Linked DNA regions of Homo sapiens: region 1 is reported to be linked to region 2. The links are microRNA targets in miRTarBase. Many come from high-throughput screens and were not tested one by one. Region 2 holds a microRNA gene; the other region holds the end of a gene's coding sequence.

What was found. Region 2 holds the annotated microRNA hsa-miR-7856-5p (UUUUAAGGACACUGAGGGAUC, at 2,652-2,672, shown strand). A microRNA usually pairs through its seed, bases 2 to 8, with sites in the 3' UTR of a target mRNA and lowers its output. Matches are read on the target gene's strand: a 7mer-m8 pairs with bases 2 to 8, a 7mer-A1 pairs with bases 2 to 7 and ends in A, and an 8mer does both.
Region 1: the mRNA of NFATC2IP is a reported target of hsa-miR-7856-5p. Seed matches in the 3' UTR shown: 7mer-A1 at 3,533-3,539 and 7mer-A1 at 4,014-4,020.

Annotation. Positions count from the first base shown.
Region 1 is chr16:28,962,910-28,970,025 of GRCh38, forward strand. It overlaps NFATC2IP (nuclear factor of activated T cells 2 interacting protein), which reads left to right. Exons shown (of 8, transcript NM_032815.4): 8 at 796-4,183. The coding sequence ends at 954. It overlaps NFATC2IP-AS1 (NFATC2IP antisense RNA 1), which reads right to left and starts at 3,535. Exons shown (of 2, transcript NR_186408.1): 1 at 3,507-3,535.
Region 2 is chr1:86,353,213-86,360,336 of GRCh38, reverse strand. It overlaps MIR7856 (microRNA 7856), which reads left to right and starts at 2,650; the gene lies at 2,650-2,705. It overlaps ODF2L (outer dense fiber of sperm tails 2 like), which reads left to right. Exons shown (of 17, transcript NM_001366781.1): 12 at 1,446-1,550; 13 at 3,735-3,893; 14 at 5,478-5,563; 15 at 5,645-5,807.

The DNA.
Region 1 (7,116 bases), not on the chromosome of region 2:
GCGGGGGCTCACGCCTGTCATCCCAGCACTTTGGGAGGCCAAAGTGGGTGGCTTATCTGAACTCAGGAAGTTTGAGACCAGCTTGGGCAACAGAGAAACTGTCTCTACCAAAAATACAAAAACTTAGCTGGGTGTGGTGGCCTGTGCCTGTAGTTGCAGCTACTCAGGAGGCTGAGGCAGGAGAATTGCTTGAACCCAGGAGGCAGAGGTTGCAGTGAGTTGTCTACCAGTCCCACGGCATTAGCACTCGTCCCAATCCAGTACAACCTCAACTTGATTGCATCTGCAAAGGCCCCGTCTCCAAATCACATCACATTCACACTTAACAGGGGTTAAGACCACAAGGTGTCTTCTCTGGGGAACATAACCTGTAACATTTTTCTAAGGTCACATATCTAATAGGTGGGAGAGCCTGGCCTCCAGCTCGACTCATCCTCACTCTAGAATCTGGGCTCTCTTAGTCATTGGTACACACTTCTGTTTCATAGGGAAGGAGGCTGAGGCTAGGAGGACTTGCCTGACTTAGAGCCTATACCCCTAAGCCTTGGGCTCGTGGCCCCCGTCCTCTACCTGAGCAACTTGGAGCCCAGAGGGATGACAGGATTCGTCCCAGCTCCCAGAGAGGAGCCTGGCTGGGCTGGCTTCTTTGTCCTCTCTCCTTTCCCCGCATGGGGCCCTGACTTTATTGTTTCCGCCCCTGCCGCCATCCTCCCTGTCCCAAGTTCCTCGTCTATCCCTACGGGATCCCCGCCCCCTTTCATGTTCTGACGTCCATTTTCTTTTGTCTCCATCCAGGATTCCCCTCTAAAGACCCTCATGTCCCACTATGAGGAGGCCATGGGACTGTCGGGACGGAAGCTCTCCTTCTTCTTTGATGGGACAAAGCTTTCAGGCAGGGAGCTGCCAGCTGACCTGGGCATGGAATCTGGGGACCTCATTGAGGTCTGGGGCTGACACCCCACTCCCTGTTTGACGGCCCAGCCTGGACTTGGGGAGAATGACTTTCCCTTTTTTGCCCCATAAGGGCTAGCATAAGCTGAGGTAGAACTTATCTTTAAGCTGCAGCAAAATCAAGGAGTGACTTTTGTCCCCTCTCCTGTTGACCCTGGTTTAGAGCCGTTAACCACTTGGTGAGTTATGTGGGTGTTGTTGCCCTGGGTGGCCTGTGGCTCCGTCCACAAGTCATGCTGAGTTTTGCAGCCTCTGTGACTTGGAGATGTCCCTTCACCCCTCCCCTTTCACCACCATCCTCTTTTCCTCATGGAAATGTCTGCTTTATGAAACTATGCACATATTGAAAGTGAGTTGAAACAAATGAGGGTTGGGTAGGAGCTTCCAGGCCTGGGATTTACACCACGCCTAGCCCAGCAGAGGCCTTAGTCCCATTTGGGGCTTGGGAGTGACATTTGCTTGAGGCTTATACACTGGTGTGGTTGCCTGGCTTGCAGGAAATGACCAAGCTCACACATGCTGGCTGAAGCGTAAGCAGACAACTGAGGTACTCTTTTGAAGGATGAAGGTGGTGGATTCTCAGCCCTGGGGGTCTTCCTCACCTGAGGACCCTTCAGAGCCACCCTTTCTAGTTTGCATTTCCTGGTGCACACATTTAAGGCATAACAGCACATTCATCCCTTTGGTTTGGGATCTCAGGAATACAGTCCCATGCAAAGATTCTCTGGTTTTATGGCTTTTTTCCCTTTCTTTACACCATCCTCTCCCATAAGCACCCATGTCTTTGAATATGAATGTATTTGTAAAATACCACGTTTCATGTGTGAATATGTGCTTTTACTGTACATAGTGCTATTGTGCAATAGGTCTTATGCTGTTTTCACTCAATGTGTGCTAAGATCTAGCCCCATTGACTCTTCTAGAAATGCAGTATTGCTTTGACCTGCCATGTGGCACTCCACAATGTCAATTGCAGTTTACACACATTGCCTAAAGTGGGGGACACCTGGGTGCCCCTGACCCCTTGGCACCGGATACAGGCCACGATAAACATCCTTTCGTGTGTTCCCTTCTGTGCTTGTGTGGCATGTGTACCCAGGATGGGCCTATAGGTCACAGAGGTCAGTTTCTCTTTGGTTTTCCAGATTTTCTTTAGAACGGTGACTGACCCTCCTACTTGAGGCCGCCCTTTTCTCCTTATCCTTGCCAGCACTTGTATTGCCAGACTACCTAATTTTTGCCAGTCTCATGGGTAGATAGTGGTGCAGTGCTTTAACATACATTCATCTGATCAGCATTAATTTGGGGAATTTTTTCACTTAGCCTTTCTGGTTTCCCTTCCTGTGCATTGCCCATTTTCTCATGGAGTTTCTTATCTTTTTTGGTTTATTCTCAGGAGTTGCTTGTACATTCTTGGGCAATTGCAGATAATTCCAAGAATGCATATTTGGGCTGGGTATGGAGGTTCACTGGTAATCCCAGCACTTTGGGAGGCCCAGGCAGAAGGATCGCTGCAGCCCAGGAGTTCGAGACTAGCCTGGGCAACATAGCGAGACCTCGTCTCTACAAAAAAAAATTAAAAAGGGGGCTTTGGGAGGCCAAGGCGGGCAGATCATGAGGGCAGGAGATTGAGACCCTCCTGGCCAACATGGTGAAACCCCGTCTCTACTAAAATACAAAAAATTAGCTGGGCATGGTGGCGCACACCTGTAGTCCCAGCTACTCTGGAGGCTGAGGCAGGGGAATCGCTTAAACCCAGGAGGCGGAGATTGCAGTGAGCCAAGGTTCCACCACTGCACTCCAGCCTGGCGACAGAGCAAGGCTCCACTCAAAAAAAAGATTTAAAGGGGAAAAAATTGAAATTTTCTTTGTATCTAGGGGTATCCGTCACTGAACAGAAATTCTTAATTTTGGCTAGGCGTGATGGCTCAGGTCTGTAATCCCAGCACTTTCGGTGGCCGGGGTGGGTGGATCACTTGAGGCCAGGAGTTCAAGACCACCCTGACCAACTTGGTGAAATCCCATCTCTACTAAAAATACAAAAATTAGCTGGGTGCAGTGGCGCATGCTTGTAATCCCAGCTACTCAGGAGGCAGAGGCAGGAGAATCACTTGAACCCGGGAGGTGGAGGCTGCAGTGAACAGAGACAGTGCCACTGCACATCAGCCTGAGTGACAGAGAGACTTTGTCTCAAAAAAAAAAGAAAATTTTAATTTTAATGTAGACAGTATGAATTATCTTGTTCTGCAGTTGGTTGCTTTTTGATTGCTTATTTAATAGAGTTGTTAAGATATTTTACATCTTCTCCTGTTAGCTGTTCAGCTTTTCCTTTCATATTGAGAACACTACACAGTGCTGAAGTCCAGCTGGTACACACCGGGGTGACACCTTGGCTGCATCTGTTCTCAACAGTCAGACACTTCTTCTAATTGGTTGATGCTGGGCTGTACTGGTTGCTAAATATTGCACATCATTTTAAAACTATTTGAGATGCACTTTTGTACTCAGGAGGCCAAGGCAGGAGGATTGCTTGAGCCCAGGAGTTTGAGACCAGCCTGGGCAACACAGCGAGACCTTGTCTCTTAAAAAAAAAAAAAAAAAAAAATGAGAGAAATCGGCTGGGCATGGTTTCTCATGCCTGTAATCCCAGAACTTTGGGAGGCTGAGGCAGGTGGATCACCGGAGGTTAGGAATTCAAGACTGAAACCTTGTCTCTACTGAAAATACAAAAAAAAAAAAAAAAAAAAATGAGCTAGGTGTGGTGGCAGGCGCCTGTAATCCCAGTTACTTCGGGAGGCTGAGGCAGGAGAATCGCTTGAACCCAGGAGGCAGAGGTTGCAGTGAGCCAAGATCGCGCCATTGCACTCCAGCCTGGGCGACAAGAGTGGAAACTCTGTCTCAAAAAAAAAAAAAAAAATTCAGTGAAATACACCTTTATATATGAGATCCAAGTTTCACTTTTTGTGATATAATGAGCCAGTTTTCTCAGTAATGTCTACTAAAAAAAAAGCCATTAACCTTTCTCTAATATTTGCATGATTCTAATAAAAGTATGTCAACTTCTTAAAATGTTTTATTGAAATGTGGCATTCCTTTGAATTTTATGACATTAAAATAATCCACGACATGGTACAGCTCTTCACTTTTTCAGCTTTTTAAATGTCCATTAATAAGTTTGAATACGTTAAAATTATATGTTTAACCTCAACAAAATAAATGGCAATATGTTCAACTTGTGTATACTGGAGGATTTTTGTCTTTGTGGCCCTCATGTGACCCCCACTAAGATCCTTGTGACAGAGACAGGAATAAGATCCTTATTCCTTCACATCCATTCTTCCTCCTTCTGTGGTACTAGAACCCATGGTTTTTAGCGAGGCACAGAGACACTCAGAATAAAAACAGTGGCCAGGCATGGGGGCACACACCTGGAATCTACCTAGCACCCTGGGAGGCTGACGTGGGAGGATCGCTTGAACCCAGGAGGTTGAGGTTGCAGTGAGCTATGGTTGTGCCAACCCACTCCAGCCTGGGCAACAATCAAGACCCTGTCTCAAAAAAAAAAAAAAATTAAGACAGTACTTCCTGGCTTCCACTGTAGCTAGATGTAGCCAAGTGCCAATACAGGCTCCTGGGGTGTAAGTGGAATGGGGTATCACTTCCCAGAAGTGTGCATAGCGGGCAGCTTGTCCCCTCTCTTTCACTTGCCTCCTGCCTGCTTACTGGAAGTGGAGCAGCCCTACTGACTTAAGGTGACCTCTGGAACAGAAACCACATGGGCCAGGATGGTGAGGGAAGGCGCCTGGATCACAGCATCCATGTAGCACCTCATTGGCCTGGCAGTGCTGACCTCGGCTTTCACATGAAGGAGGGACTGCTGCCCCTCTTTAAATCACTTATTTTAGGGTTTCTACCACTTATAACCAAACCCAGTTCAAATTCCAGGATGTTGCTATTGCAAGCAATGTAGTGTTCCCTTTGGGGTACCTGTGTGGGATTTTTCTCGGGGGCTTCCATCTGATAGTGGAATCACTGGTCACTAATTCTTGAATACTGTTAGATTGCTAACCAAAGTGCCTGTACATTTTTACATGTCCCCTAGCAAGTGCTGGAAGGTTCCAGTTTCCTCATACCTTCCCCTGACTTAATCTGGGAAGGGTATGGGAAAGACTGCATTTCTTTATCTTTTATGATGAGATTGTTCATCCTTTCACATGTCTAAAAGAATATCTAGGGTGATCTTTCTTTTTCTTTTTCTTTTTCTTTTCTTCTTTTTTTTTTTTTATAGGGTCTTGTTCTATCACCCAGGCTGGAGTGCAGTGGTGTGATCTCGGCTCACTGCAACCTCTGCCTCCGGGGCTCAAGTGATCCTCCCACCTCAGCCTCCTGATTAGCTGGGATCACAGGTGCATGACAGCATGCCCACCTAATTTTTTTGTATCTTTTGTAGAGGTAGGATCTCACTATGTTGCCCAGGCTGATCTTGAACTGCTGAGCTCAAGCAGTCTGCCTGCCTCTGCCTCCCAAAGTGCTGGGATTATAGGTGTGAGCCATCGTTCCCAGCCTTGTTTTGTTTTCTTGAGATAGGGTCTTCTCTGTCACCCAGGCTGGAGTGTAGTGGTGCTATCATAGCTCACTGCAGCCTCGATCTTGTGGACTCAAGCAATCCTCCCGAGTCTCCTGAGTAGCTGGGACTACAGGTGAATGACAACACACCTGCTAATTGTTAAACTTTTGTGTAGAGATGGACTCTCCCTAGGTTTCCCAAGCTGGTCTGGAACTCCTGGCCTCAAGCAATTTTCCTGCCTTGGCCTCCCAAAGTGCTGGGATTACAGGTGTGAACCACTGCAGCTGGCTCTGGATAATCTTCCTCAAACTCTCCTGATTAGAGACCCTTGAAACTTTAATGCTCCTTTACTCAGTGCCACATACCAACCTTGGCTCTTTTCATAACCTTATTCATCCTCAGAGCAATCCTGTGAGGTAGGTGTTCTTATTCCCATTTTACAGAAGAAAAACAGAAGCTTAGGGCTGGGCACAGTGGCTCACGCCTGTAATCCCAGCACTTTGGGAGGCCTAAACGGATGGATCATTTGAGGTCAGAAGTTCAAGACCACCCTGGCCAACATGGTGAGACCCTATCTCTACAAAAAGAAAGAAAAAAAAACCAGGTATGGTGATGCACGCCTGTAGTCCCAGCTACTTGGGAGGCTGAGGCAGGATAATTGCTTGGACCTGGGAGGCAGAGGTTGCAGTGAGCTGAGATCGCACCACTGCACTCCAGCCTGGGCGAGAGAGTGAGACGCTGTCTCAAAAAAAAAAGACAGAAGCTTAGAAAGATGAATGAACGTGCTCTAGACCACAGGGCCTCCCATTGCACAGCCCGGTGTAGATGCAGGTGGGTCTGATGTATGGCTCAGAATTCTCAAGGAGACCAGAGACTCTCGTCAGTGTGCACACAGGTTGTCTGGGGACCTTGTTAGTGTGCAGATGCTGGATCAGCAGCTCAGGTGGGGCGTGAGATGCTGCATTTCCAGCAAGGTCCCAAGTGATGGCAATGTAGCTGATCATACTTGAAGTTGCAACATACCATTTTGCCTTTTTTTCTCTATGCCTTTACTGTCTCCCACCTCCCTACCCCTGTCACCCCCTCCAACTCAGGGTCAGTTCTTCCATAAGGCTCCTCGTAGGACTGGTCACATTGTCTTTTGTGTGTCCCACCTCTGCTTGGAGTCTGGCTTGGTACACCCATCCACGCATCCAGGTTTTGCTTCCCTATGGGACTGTAAGTTCCTTGAAAATAAACTCTTCTTAAAAATCTCTTGGCTGGGCCGCAGTGGCTCATGCCTGTAATCCCAGCACTTCAGGGGGCTGAGGTGGGAGGATCACTTGAGGCCAGGAGTTCCAGACCAGCCTGGGCAATCTAGTGAGACCCCATCTCTACAAACATAAAAAAAATTAGCCAAGTGTGTGGTGCATGCCTGTAGTCCCAGCTACTCAGGAAGGAGGCTGAGGTGGGAGGATTGCTTGAGCCCAGGAGTTCGAGACTGTAGTGAGCTGTGATTGTGCCACTGCACACCAGCCTGGGCAACAGAGCAAGACCCCATCTCAAAAAAGTCTCTTGCTTGGTGTCTGACACCTTGACACAGTAGTATCCTAACAAAT
Region 2 (7,124 bases):
AGAGGTGGGGCTATCATTGTGGGTTATAATATGGTGTGTCTCAAATATTTCTTAAGGTCCCACACATCTTTATAAATAGATGATTCTGCTGATTCCTGATTCAAACACTGCATATGGATATACTGGATATTCCTAAAAGTAGATTTAAAATGAATTACATCGGTATAATGTGACCCTTAATGTATTCTTGTTAATCTTGGTTATATTTGTTTGTCATCATGTGTATTTAATGGTATTGATTTAGATTAATGACTCCCTTCTAGGGTCATTAAAGTTCATTATGCCTCCTTTCTCAAGAAATAAAGTATAATTCAGATTATTCACATGAAAGACCAAGAAAAGAACATATGACAATATATATGAAATAGACCATGTGTTCAATGGTAATTTATAGAAAACCTTTATTTTTTTGGAAATGTAGTATTCAAGAAAAAACTTCATAAGATGGGACTTATGCAGGTCCTTGCATGATGGTTAACACACTGGTCAGAGAGAGTTTGAATTAAAGAATAATGAACTGGCTGGGTGTAGTGGCGTACACCTGTAATCCACTGGGAGGCTGAGGTGGGCGGATCATTTGAAGTCAGGAGTTCGAGACTAGCCTGGCCACCATGGTGAAACCCTGTCTCTACTAAAAATACAAAAATTAGCCAGGTGTGGTGACATGCACCTGTAGTCTCAGCTATTCAGGAGGCTGAGGCAGGAGAATTGCTTGAATCCAGGAGGTGGAGGTTGCAGTGAGCCGAGACTGCACCAATGTGCTCCCAGCCTGGGCAACAGAGCAAGACTCCATCTCAAAAAAAAAAAAAAAAAAAAAGAATGAACTAAGGATGAAAGCTTAAGGGGGCCAAAGTGTGGGCAAGTAGGAAGGGGCTGCATCTCGATGGATTAGATGGGAAAATTAAGTTGAGACATCCAGTTAGAATATTTCAGTCATCCAGGTCTGAGGTAGGAATGGAGGTTGTGGTGGACTGTGGGACTTGTTATTCATCAGGGTCTTCCAGCTGGTTATTTGGGTTTAATCCCTCAGCAGGAATACTGTGGTTGAGTGACCATATTCTGGGTGCAGGGCCTAGAATTTTTTTTTTTTTTTTTAGCAGATTTTGATTTGGTGGGAAAAATAATTTAAATGGAAGCTAGTTTGGACCAGAGACTGATTCTTTGAAGTGACATTGATCTGCAAATGAAAATCTTTGTAGTCTTCAAAGCTCAAGTGGAGAGTTTAGAAGTATTGATGAGAGAAGACAGGTAAATCAGACAAAGATTGTGGGTTAGAGTAGAGCACTGAGTGATTCCATATTTAAAGAAGTAATAACATTAGATGAACCAGTCAAGGATATTGATAGGAAAATAATGACTTGTTTAAAATGAAATTTTAAATTTTAGATTTTTATCTCATGTTATGATTCTAAAAATAATATGTTTCTCTAATACTTTATTTTCAGGTACAAAAGTTGCAAGAAGCAGCTGAAATAGTAAAAAGCAGATGTGAAAATTTGCTACATAAAAATAACCAAATAACAAAAACCAAAAATAAAAATGTAGAGAAGGTACGTTTGGAATTTCAAATAAATAATATTTTATATATTTTTTACTTTATGAATAGTACACAAATTCATTCATTTTGGTCATTTTCTCTAGTTCATACTTAGGAAAGGGCTAGTCTTAGCCTCTGTAAGAGTTTGTTTTCCAAGGAAATAATGTTTCTTCCAGGCTGGAAATGTTGTTTGTTTATGTGAATGTTTTTTCACTTTTTTGTTAATATTTGGAAAATAGCATAAATGTTTAATTTTTCTGATGCAAGAGCAGACTTTAAATAGCTCAAAAAATGGTTATCAATCATAAGTATACAAACCTAAGTATCTCTCATTTTTAATCTCACCCTTTTTTTCTGGTTATAAATGTTTTACGTCTACAAAAGCAAAGCCAATATCTGCTAAATGCATTTTTGAAGAAAAATAATATCTTTTAAAAAACGATCATTTCCTTTTATTTGTTCTATTGCAACAGAATGAAGGGAAGGCCAGTGTTGGCGAGTTATGATGTTTTTGTGAATATTTTAAAATTTTTAAATGAAACCGCATCTCTGTTTGGTTTTTTGTGTTGTTTTGGTAAAGAAGCAGTGAAAGTTGTAGGATGCTGACTCCTGGCAGCAGAGGTCATGCGATGTTAGTGGTCGCTTCCATCTGAATCTAATAAGGTTACTCTCTCTGGGTTGCTCCCTATCTTAGGATTGAGAAGTCAGAGCAAGGCAATAATGTGAAGAAGAGGTCAGCCAGAGCAAGCGTCCTCCAGTTATACAGACATAAAGATAGCTCACTGAATGCACAACTTACTGCTTTCATGGAATTACTTTTCACCTATTTTTAGCAGGCCAGCGAATAAACCATTTCATGTCTTTTGGTCTCATTTTCTCATGAAACATACCAGTGCAAATGTCTCCTTTTCTGCTAGGCAGCACTGTAAATAAAAGCATATTTTACAATCCTGTTCAAATGACGGAAAGGGTTGGAGCCTGTCTTTTTCAGATACTGTGAGGTCACAATGTTTTCTAACTAGTATTTAACAAGACAACTATTTTTTTAATGAAATTTTTCTTTTTCTTACTTCACTGTTTTAAGTCTCCTGGTTTTCTCATGGCCTCTAAGATGTTTTAAGGACACTGAGGGATCCTTTGTTCTGGATCCCTCAGTGTCCTTAAAACAGACATTTTTCAGTCTGTTTTTTTTTTTTCCTGTTTTACTTTATATACCATCAGAATATGGATCATGTGTATCCTGTTAGTAGCCACATAGCCTTCTCCTAGCTCAATGCCTAGCACGTAGTAAGCACTCAATATTTTTTTAATTAATGAAATTTTTTTTAAAGGAGCAGTCCAAGGATGGCGACAAGTCTTTTTTCTTTTACTTTCAAGACAGTTTTAGGAAGCATTCCCTGTCTGTCTTCCAAATATAATCTGGATTTTAATTTTGCAAAAAAAAAAAAATACTGCATTATCTTTCCTGATCAAGAATGCCAGATACTACACAGAAACTATTAGGTGTTCCTGTCTCAGGGAAAGAGTCTGGCTATTTTTTGTAATTAGCAGTGCAAACATTTCTTAAGGTTGCTGCTTTTCACATCTCCACGAAAGTGCTGCAGCGAGGAACTGCAGTAGCCAAAACAGATTAATGTAGATGAAATTAGAGAGATTTGTTGATAGTAACATTAATGGCCAAATTAAAGGCAAGTGAGAACTGATGATACTAGCAATTTTTAAATAATATACAGTAAACCCTATCAGTTTTGGCTAAGATGAGTGAAGCAAGCTGCTCTAATTTAAGTAAGTATCTGAGTTATAAGATTGAATGACTAAAAGTGACAATTCCTTTAGAACCTATAGCTGGGCAGTAGACAATTACGGCTTTATTAGTAATGGTTATTAGTGATAATCTATGCTTGAATATAATGTCAGGATTTTAAAAATTTGCTCTTAAAAATTAGTTAAACATCCACCCTGTCAGCTAATTTACCCTATTTATGTGCTCAACAAACTTTTTGAAAACTAAAGTCTACCCCACTTTTTAGTTATACATTCTTATTTAACAGAGTTTAATATTTATTCAGTTGTGTTCTTATTTAAAGCCATTATACCTAAAATACTTACGTTATAAGCATATCTAGTATTTAAGATAATAAAAATATTAATGCTGAATGTGTGATCTTGCACTTATTTCCCTACTGCCACAACTCAGATGAGAGGCCAGATGGAGTCTCATCTGAAGGAGTTAGAGCGTGTCTGCGATTCCTTGACGGCGGCGGAACGGAGGCTTCACGAGTGTCAGGAGAGTCTGCAGTGCTGCAAGGGGAAGTGTGCAGACCAGGAACACACCATTAGGGAGCTTCAGGGCCAGGTGTCCAGCCGTCCTTCTGAGTTTTGCTAGATGCGTTAAAAGAATGCTTTGGAATGATTTCACCAGTTGAGGGCACTCATGTCAGGGCTTGATTTTTAAATTCCCATCTACTTAGTTCGTAAAACATCATTTTCATGCAGATACTATAATACAGTTTTGCAAGCTATTCTTTTAGTATTTTATGGTGAAAAATTGGTAATTAAAATTCTTATTTTAGTTTATTCATGCAAATCTATAGACATTTGAAGACATGGTAATAGAATGAGAGAAGGAGCAAAGTTATACTTACATATATGTTCCTTGATGTAAGGATAAGGTAAATTATTGAAACTTACATTACAAAAATTGAATTTATTTTAATTAGAATTGTACGTCAAGTTTTTTGGGATATTTTTCAGTCTGTTTCTTTTTCCTGTTTTACTTTTTATACCATCAGAATATGGATCATGTGTATCCTGTTAGTAGCCACATAGCCTTCTCCTAGCTCAATGCCTAGCACATAGTAAGCACTCAATATTTTTTTAATTAATGAAATTTTTTTTAAAGGAGCAGTCCAAAGATGGTGACAAGTCTTTTTTCTTTTACTTTCAAGGCAGTTTTAGGAAGCATTCCCTGTCTATCTTCCAAATATGATCTGGATTTTAATTTTGCAAAAAAAAATACTGCATTTTCTCACTTAAAAAGTAGGAGCTAAATGATGAGAACACGTGGACACATGGAGAAGAACAACACACAGTGGGGCCTTTCAGAGGGTGGAGAGTGGGAAGAGGGAGAGGATCAGAAAAAATAACTAACAGGTACTAGGCTTAATACTTGATTGATGAAATAATCTGTACAACAAACCCCCATGACACAAGCTGACCTGTGTAACAAACCTGCATTTGTACCCCTGAACTTAAAAGTTAGATAAAAATATGCAGACAAAATTTTAGTTTAAATTCCTGAGAAGAGATTTTTCTAGTAAAATGTCAAACGACATAGATTAGCCTAAATTACTAATTGAAATTATGAGAAAAAAATTTTTTCCTTGAATCAAAGCTTCTTACATTATTTAGAGCAGATTTTGAAGCAGTGGGAAGAATATTCTGTCTTGGCATGGGTGAGTGTGTCTTTGGTTGATTTGTTCACTTTGCTTCTCAAAAAAATATGTATTTTATTTACAGTTTCGACTTCACAGATACTCAATTATTAATCAGTATTTTTAGGTGAAACAGAAAACCATAAGAGAAACCCTAGGTATCCAAAAATAGGAGATTAATACTGCTTAAAATTTTCCTATTTCAACTTAACAAAATAAATATCTTTCTTCAATAAGGTGTTGTTCAAAGTGTTTTAATAGCCATCATCCTGAATTTTTTTTAGTTGGTTATTTTCCAATACAGGCAACATAACTTCTTTAAATTTAACCAGGAATTTAAAACTTCCATTTTAACAATATAACATTTTCTTGGTGTCTTTCTGTGTAAGAGTAGTAACATTTATACCTTCTCGTTGCTTGTGGTTGTTCTAACAATAAATTATATGGATTTCTTTGGAAGTTGATTGTGAAGAAAATGACTAAGAAAACTTTTTTTTTTCTTTTAGGTTGATGGAAATCACAATCTTCTGACAAAGCTTTCTCTGGAAGAGGAAAACTGTCTTATTCAGCTGAAGTGTGAAAACCTTCAACAGTAAGTATTAAATTACTTAACATTGCTGCTGCATATTTCTCTGCACATTAACATTTTAAAATATATGTTTTCTGTAAAAAGAAAATTAGAACAGATGGACGCAGAAAATAAAGAGCTTGAGAAGAAGCTGGCAAACCAAGAAGAATGTCTTAAGCACAGCAATCTTAAGTTTAAAGAGAAATCTGCAGAGTATACAGCATTGGCCAGACAACTGGAAGCTGCTTTAGAAGAAGGAAGACAAAAGGTATGCATGGCCTTTATTTAGAAACTTTTTAATTCATTTACCAAAGAGTCATCTTTTTAAACATCTTGCAACCTGTAGTTATTGTTTTTGTCCTGATGACAGGGTGAAGGGAGCAATTACATTTTTCTTCTTTAACTATCTTCCTTTTCAAGCAAAACAGATACATTGCTAGGCTAGAGCTACTTCACTAGATAAATGGTAATGTGGCTGGGGAAAGGGCAGAGATGGAAAACACTTTGAAGACATAATCTCCTCCTGTACCTTTTTTATATACAACCAAATTGAATGTGCAAATAATTGAAAATTTTTGTTTTGATCAGGATTCAGTGAGCTGTAAAGTTCAAGTCCCTTTTGACAAATATTGTTGCATAGATAAATACATACAATATTAAATTTCAGTTACATCCATTAGGTTAGCATTCAACGAATACTTCAGTATCAGGCAATCTGCTAGTGCTTGAGATGCAAAGATGAATAAGACCTGGCCTTAGCTCTCAGCACTCTCATAGTCTGGTGTAGGGTTCAGCCTAAGTGCATTTTGGAAATGCCAGGTATGCTCTCAGATTCCTTCCTGAAAGGAAGAGTTCAGAGTCCCAGAGGTATGTCTGCCCTCTCCTTTCTCTCCTGCTACAGTGGAATATGGGGCTATCTGTAGTTTCTGCCCACGTGAGAGTGCCATCACTGCCCTGTTACCATTGCCCACACTGAGGGGACGGCGCCAAGGGCGTCAATGTTTGTCCTAAAGGCCCTTTCTCCCATAGCTTCAGCTCACACTGGCATCTCTCATGCATAATTGTGCTTGGAATATGTACAGAAGAAATCTTTATAATAACTTAGAACCGAGTTCATAGGAATTAGGTTGGAGGACAGTCCTTTCCACTAGCTCCTTGTTCCTGGATCAGTCCCTGCCTCTACTCTCATTCTTGTGGCTCCAACCCAGCATTCTTACAAATAGGCTTCCTTAGAAGGAAACATATCTGATTCCTTAGATGAACATAACTAAGCTAGACTTCCTGCTAAAATAAGTAACCAGAGAAATATGAAAATTCAAATTCAGACCAGTTTGGAAGTGAATGAATGAAGAACCAGTCTCTGTGTTTGTGTGTGTGTGTTTGTAGGAAGTGTGTATACCAATTCCTGCTCCCAATTCTATTAATCCAAGTGTATAATGAGTATTTAACAAGAAATTTCTATGTTCCATCACTGCTCTTAACACCCTGGTGAATATAAATGCTATAAAAATGGTAATTGGTCTCAGTCTGTTTTTAAAATATACTGTTGGAGAAAACACCTACCTAAGTCACGGAGCAGTGAAAA